Linked DNA regions of Homo sapiens. The protein of the gene in region 1 binds, or shares a complex with, the protein of each later gene. Each region holds a gene or a part of one and is shown on either strand. Other genes may lie near its edges.

Region 1 (3,750 bases):
GACTGTACTCTCAGAGCCTTTGCCTGAAGAAGACTTGACAGGTGGGGAACAGATTGCAACTTTAGAAGGGAGACCCAGGCAGAGACTTTTATTCCCCCCATAGAACATATCATTCTGAAATTATTTTATTTATTTACTCACAATTTGTCTCCCCATGGGCGAAGACCCTATCTTGTTCACTGATATATCCCTGGCACCTAAAACAGTGGCTGGCAGAAAGTCCTCGATAAATAATTGTTGAATTAATGAATGGCTCATCTCCCCAAAAAAACATTTGAACGAGAACAATGTCTCTGTGGGGGAAGGAGGTACAGGGTGCCCTAAAAGACCAGACTCATCTTGAAGTAGGGAGGGAGATGATGTGGCGGGTATCATCTAGCAAGACAGGAGGGCTGAGCTCTCTGCCTCTGCAAGGTGGTGACTTTGGGCCAGTCTTTTCATCTCCATTTCTACCTTGAAAAAAAATGAATGGATTCCTCCTACTCTACCTACATCAAAATGTAAAGCATACATGAAATCACTTTGGAAACTGAAATGCTATTCAAATGGTAAGGCAAGGTCTGGGATGCCAAAAACCTGGTTTCTAGTACCAGCTCTGCCACTTGATGATGATGATGATGATGATGATAGCAATATACTAAGAGTTACTATGTACTGACTAATTACATGCATTGTGCCTGCACTGTGCCAAACATTTTATAGTCAATTATCTCATTTTGACTTTATCACAACCTTCTGAGGTAGGCAGTGTTAATCTCATCTTACAGATGAAGAAACTGGAGCTCAGAGAGGTTCCGTAATGTGCCGAAAATCACACAGGTAGTAAATGATAGGGCTAGGAGTCAAAACCTGGTCTGACTACTCCAAAGTCTGGTGTTCTTGACCACCAACTATGCCAGATGTCTGATCTTGGGCAAGTCACTCCTCTTTTTTTTAGGTCTGTAAAATGAAAGGGTTATACCAGATGATATCTGCAGACCCTGCCACATCTGATATTTTGTCGTCTATTCTGATCCCCGCTCAGATCCAACTGATGGGAACTGCCTCAATGAGGGGATAGGGAAGTGATAATAATTCAACGCTTTCATCTTCATAGATAGGGTTTCTTTTTTCAGGAGAGGAGGAAGAGATCGAAATATTCACACTCCTATCTGTATCCTGCGACTGCTCCCTCCAGATAGCCACTCCAGGACTGCCCCTGCCTGAATCCCGTCTCGCTCAGCCCTCACAGGCAGGGGCCTGATGTCCGCGGAAGGCGCTCCCGAAACGGCCTAAGACTTACGGGGGGAAGGGGACGGGCAGGGAACGGGCAGAAGTCCCTCGGCTGGCCCAGGGGCCCGCCGCAGGCAGCCTGGGAGGGGGACTGCGGTTGCCCCACTCGCCAATCCTGCTTTCCTGCGGCTGAGCTCCAGCCTCCCACCCCTCAAGCCAGTCACTTAACCTCTCCGCTCCTGTTCCCCCGTCTATAAACTGGGATCGGAATTTCTGCTTCAGGGGGCTGCAGCGATTAAGTGAGATAAATATTTGGAAAGTATCTGGTCCGCTCAATACCGCGCTCATCTTCGCGCAGCGGGGGAAAGCCAGAGGGCTAGAAAGCCCCCAACCCGCGGCAGGAGACGGGCGGACACTGGTCCGGGCCAAAGAGCCCAGAGTTCAGCCGCTAGGACCCCGCAGGCGCCCACTGCGCGGGGCTGATCGAGCGCGCCGAGGGCTCCGGGGCCGAGGCCGAATCACCTCAGCCGCCGCTTCCCGCCGGCGGGCGTCTCCGGGCCCCAGCCGAAGCTTTCCGGGCTCCTCACCTCTGACTCCCGCCGCTGGCTTCGGAACGCTTCGCGGCCCTTGGGCGCCGCCTGCTTCCCTTTGCCGCCGCCGTTGCCATTGCCATTTGCGGGCGGGCCCCCGGTCCCAGGCGCGGCGGGGTCCTCCATGCTGCTGGTCAGCGGCTCCCCTCAGGGTTCAGCTCGCTTTGCCGGAGGCGACCCTACCGCCGCGCGCCGGGAGCCAGGCCCCGCCCCCTCCACCTCTATTGGTTACGGCAGCTCGCCGCAACCCCGCCCCGCGAGGCGATTGGCTGCTCGACCGGCCGGAGCGGGACTCGAGGAGGTGGGGGCTCAATGAAGAGATTTTTGAGGGGATCTTTTTAGTCCTGCGGCATTGCTGGCGGACGGAGACTCCTAGGTTAGCTACAGGCTCCACACCTCGCGAAAGCTGGGCCTTGAGATCAGGCGGGTTATCTCTGTGCTCCTCACTCGGTGTCTCTCAGCTCTCACCCCCGTCCCTGTAGCGACCTTTTCCGGAGCTCTAGTCTCCGCCTACTGCTCCACAGCAGTCTCCGTTTCCCTGTTACCACCGACCCGGCCCCCCATATCCCGGCTCCTGCACACGTCCCATATCCCGCTTAGTCTCAGGGGAGGGATGGCACCGCCAGGTGGCCAGGGACATCGCCCGAAACGAGGGACTCGCTGTCTCTGGAAGCTGAGAATTCTCAGCGTTTTTCTGAAGAGAACGCATCTCGCCCGGAGCTAGGGCTTGGCTGGGAGACTGGAGGTCTAAGGGTGGGATGGGGGAGTTTTTCCATCACTGAAATTGGTGGTGCCCTCGAGGGCTGCTCCTGTCATCTGCCCTTCTCTGCTGTAGGGGGCCTCTTCCTCATGGTGTGTAAATGTTGAGGGTAGAGCAAGCCCCCACCCTCACCTGCTCGCCAGTCCTTTCTTTCCTTCCTCTCTCTTAGATGCTTCCTAAGGGCTCATTGTTACTGGGGGCAAAAGAGGCTGTTTGATCTGCCCTCTCCTGAATTTAAAAAGTAGCTTGTAGTAAATATTTAGACAGTCTGGCTTGGTAATAGAAGCCCCAAAGACGTAGGCTCAGGGGAACAGGTGGGACCAAATCGCTGTCCCCAGCCTGGTTGCTTTAGGAAGGGTCTGGGGGATTGTTGAACTGAGCTTGGTGCCAGGCACTGCAGTAAGCGCTTTCCAAATATCACATCATACCTCTCCCCGACAGGGTGTTTTTACGAATCCAATGTTACTGATGAAGAAACCGGCACTTGCAGATTCCTCCCTGCGGTTTCCAAGGTATCATATTCTATCTTGTCTCAGGGTCTTGCCTATGCTGTTCTCTGGAGGAGACTGTCTTCTGTTCTCCTGGTTGATTCCTTTTCTCTCATAAAGATTCTAGTTAGTTGTCACCTCCTCCTCCTCCACAAAGCTTTCCTTTTAGCCCTCAACTCATTCAGGTTGTGTTGGTGTCAAACCAGTTCTGCCTAGATCCAAAATCCTAACATTTTCCACGATATACCCAAAGCAAAGGGCCTAGAGGAATTACTCCACCTTCCCATACCTTAGGGACAACCCTGTCCCTTTCTTAACATCTCTCTCTCTCTCTCACTTTTCCCTTTGCCAGTTCATAGGCGACAGAACAAGGCAAGTTTGAGAGCACTCTTTGGAGCTTTTTGGGTTTTCTCACCCTGGTCCAATATCTCCTTACTGTACCTTCACATCTTCCTTTTCCTCTTCCAGTCCCACTCCTCTCCCCACCCACATATAGGCTCCTAGCGAGTAAGACCAAATTTAGCTCATTTTTGTATGCCCCTAATTTATGTACGTTTAACGCAGCGTTTCACAGTCTCTGTACTATTGACAATTGGGGCTGAATATTTATTGTAGGGGGCTGTCCTGTGCATCGTAGGATGCTTAGCAGAATACCTGGCCTCTCTTCACTAGATGCCAGTAGTATCCTCCCGCTAGTGCG
Region 2 (3,750 bases), on another chromosome or scaffold:
GTTCAGATGGGGCCAGCAGGGGTTTTCTCAGTGAACTTCCCGTGGTGCACACTGCGTGCAGAAGCAGGCGTTCGCAAGCAGGCGTTCGGCCGCCTGCTTATTATCTGTCCCTGAACCTGAAAGCAAGTCCTCGGGCCTCTGAGTAAAATCAAGGCAAGCGCATCACCGACGTACTCTCAGCAGAGATCGGCTTCTGCCAGGGCCTGCCTGCCAGTCACCGAGTGTGTTTAGCTGGTTGAGAGGTGCTTGGAGGTCTGGAGGTGCATCCGTCAGAGATCATGTTCAGTAGCACAATAGGGTGACCGTAGTTAATAATTTGTTGTGTTTCAAATAGCCAGAAGAGAAGATTTGGAATATCCCAGCACAAAGGAATGAGCCGTGTTTGAGGTGAGGGGGATCCCAGCTACCCGGATTTGATTGTTACACACTGTATACTTGTACCAGAAAAAATTCATATAACTATTATGTACCCTTACAAATGAGAAGGCTCTGGGTCTGTGTGGCCAGGAGACAGCATGCTTTGAAAACAGCAGTAGCTGTAATGAAATCTGAGAGGCCTGGGGGAAGCAGACAGATGTGGAATCACACAAACTTGAGAGCCACCTGTTGGTGTGGAGAACCGCTGCCACACAAGAGTCACAATTGCCACCTCTGTTCTTGCCTCTCCCCTCCTCGGTCCTCCCTCCTTGTGCCTGCTCACTCCTGTCCTCCTGTCGCTGCCACAGTTCTGGGTGCTTGCCCACCCTGTGCTCCCATGCACCTGCTTCCCTGCTCCTAGGGGCAAGAGACTGGGATCAGTTGCATTTCTGCTGATTTTTAAGATAATGCAATGCAAGATAAAGCAGAGTCCAAGTTGTAGAGGGAAGGAAAATAGTATTACTTCCAACGTCAGCTCTTCTAGACTGACCCCTTCAGTACAAGATTTAGTAGAAAGAATTTAGAACAAGACTTGCTGGCAGCTTTTCATCTTCACTGAGAATAAGGAAATAGAATATGCCGTAGGCATCATTCCCATGGACTGCTGGGCTTGGGGGCTTCCAGTAGGGATTTCTGGTACTCACTAAGGCTGCAGGAACATGGTAAGTGTATCCTCTGGATAGTTAAAGCACCCTGCAGCCACAACGATGCTTCCGCCTATGCATTTCCTTGCTGTAGAGTGAGTGTGAGAGATGTATTCGATTCTCACTGAAGTTCTTGGAATAATGATGGATTCCAGTGCACAGTGAGAACAGCAGGAAAGCTGTACCAGACTCAGGCGTGTTCTCTACCCCAGTCCCCATTCGTCTTTCGCCAGCCCATATAGGACTATGTCCTGCCTCATTGTCGGCCTCTGTCCTGTTTGGGGATTGGTGTCACATGCTGTCAATGTCTCATCAGCTGTCAAGTTCCTCTTAGGATGGCCTGGCTCTTCTCATTGACATGACACATTCAAGGAATTCATTCCTTTGCCTAACTGCTTGGTTGTGCCACAGGCCTGTGCTGGGCAGAAGGAGGTGGGGCAGCTGGACCTGAGATGTCCTAGTGGGGCCACACGGCTTCTGCAGATGTCTCCTCTGGGACATTCGGCAGAAAATGCAGACACTAGAGAGACACAGTAAATGACATCAGCAAGAAACCACCAGACAAATCCCGAATTTGGGACCTGTTTCTTTAAGTTGATGTCCCTGGGGAGACTGGGGACAGGACTGTTGTAGGTTGAAAGAGCCTTAGCGACCTGGCAGTCAGTTGTACCCCGTGGACTTTGGATCCTGATTCAGATAAACCAACCATGGAATGACAGTTTTTGAACAGCTGAGAACATTTAATTATACATGACATTAAGGAATTCGTGTTAATTTCAGGCACTGATAGGTAGTAAAAAGTCTGTATATTGGCACACGGAAATACTCGGGGGAAAATGTCATGATGACTGATTGATTTTAAAATATACTCGGGGAACACATGGACAAAGCTCGTATGGCAAAATGTTAATTAGTAAATTCATGCAATAGGTAGATGAGGATGCATTATATTAATATTTCTCAGTTCTTTGTATGTTTGAACATTTTCATAATAAACTTTTTTAAGTTCTGGGCCCCTGGTAAGGCACCTTACATGGCCACCTCCTCCTCTTCCACCTCCATTCTACAGATGAGAGAAACAGGGCTCAGAGGTTAGCTCTTTCATCTAACGTCACAGGACTTTGACTGTAGAACTGGCATTTCAACCCAGGTATCTTGAGACCAAGGTGCCCACTCTCGACCTCAGAGCTGTGCCCTAAGTTCTAAGCACTGCTGGAGGGGGTGACTCGCGAGCGTACACCCACTCCGGACTCCTCCTCTCTGCTCACCTCTCTTACTGGTCCTGCTGGCCCCCGGGACTCCACGGGGAATGCCGAATGCATCCAGCAGGAGGCGTAGTAGGAGTGAATTGATAAGCCATCTCCATGTAGAGGCAGAAAACATTTGGCATATTACAGTTTCTCCTGTTGTCTCTTTTGAAATTACAGCGAGGGCTTATGTTTTTAAATATCAGTTAAAAATACCTTTTTCAAAACCTCAGAAGTATTGAGACATGTTACCATTTTCCCCCTAAATACTGTGTATTGGAATAGATTCCTGCTTGGTGTTTGTAAAGATGCTTTTCTTGTTGCAGGCAGACATCTGGTCCCTGGGCATAACAGCTATTGAACTTGCAAGAGGGGAACCACCTCATTCCGAGCTGCACCCCATGAAAGTTTTATTCCTCATTCCAAAGAACAACCCACCGACGTTGGAAGGAAACTACAGTAAACCCCTCAAGGAGTTTGTGGAGGCCTGTTTGAATAAGGAGCCGAGCTTTGTAAGTTTCCCAGGGATCACAGCGTACCTCTTCATGTGCGGCTTGACTTGGTTGAGATACATCCTGTTGGGATTGCTTTAATCACTCTTTTCAGCTGTCTTCCTGGTATTATTCATTTTTCTTTTTCTAAGTAAGTATGATTGACTTCTTTGGTTTGCAAATACATTTTAATTTTTAAGTATTAAAAATCTCCTTATTTTCTTTTAGATTTCTGCCATCTCATACTTCATTGAATCTGAAGAATATTCTCCTTAATATTAAATGTGGAATCATAAATGTTTAATATTTATAGAAGATCAGGCCATAAACTGTTACACTGTTTTTAATAATGGCAAAGGTTAGCTGGAAACAAATGGCTAAATATGTCTTTAAAGTAAATGTTTTCACTTTCCAGGTGGCATGTGTTAGGAAACAAAAGATTAGAAAATATAACCAAGCCACCCTCTGTGCTTCTTCCCCTCCCCTTCCTGCCTACTTTCTCTTTTTAGGTTTAATAGACTCTGGCAGAGCCATACAGCAGTAACGACTGTGTGGCTTTGCCTCATTTTCTGTCTGAATTAGGACATTTCTTTGAAAGTAGTGTGTGTGTGTTGGTGTTGGAGGTAGCACCATATGTCCTTGTTTTGTTTCTGAGTTTTCCAGCAGAGTTAGCTGAAGGCTAAGCTGAGCCCCCCTTTTCTTAACTCTTATGTAAAAATGGGTGGTTACTTTTACAAGAGCACCATGGTTTCCTAATATGCCAGTTCTGGTAAAGGAATTAAATGGGTAATGCAACATTTTCTAAGTACGTCTAAGGAGATGCAGGCTGAGACCACCACACCAGTGTTTGATGACTACATCAGCATCGGGTGGTGGTGGGGCTTGTCCTGCATGCCACGATGCTCTGCATTTTATTACACGATGATGTTTCTTGCAGCCATCATGCACCAG

The links.
Region 2: STRIP2 (region 1) and STK24 share a complex: the UniProt entries of both Homo sapiens proteins name them as parts of the core of STRIPAK complex.

Annotation. Positions count from the first base shown.
Region 1 is NC_000007.14:129,432,651-129,436,400, reverse strand, and holds the start of STRIP2 (striatin-interacting protein 2), read right to left. Parts: upstream 1,970-3,750; 5' UTR 1,929-1,969; coding exon 1,800-1,928; intron 1-1,799. UniProt on the Homo sapiens protein: Plays a role in the regulation of cell morphology and cytoskeletal organization. Required in the control of cell shape. Calmodulin-binding scaffolding protein which is the center of the striatin-interacting phosphatase and kinase (STRIPAK) complexes.
Region 2 is NC_000013.11:98,465,446-98,469,195, reverse strand, and holds part of STK24 (serine/threonine-protein kinase 24 isoform b precursor), read left to right. Parts: intron 1-2,634; coding exon 2,635-2,820; intron 2,821-3,750. UniProt on the Homo sapiens protein: Serine/threonine-protein kinase that acts on both serine and threonine residues and promotes apoptosis in response to stress stimuli and caspase activation.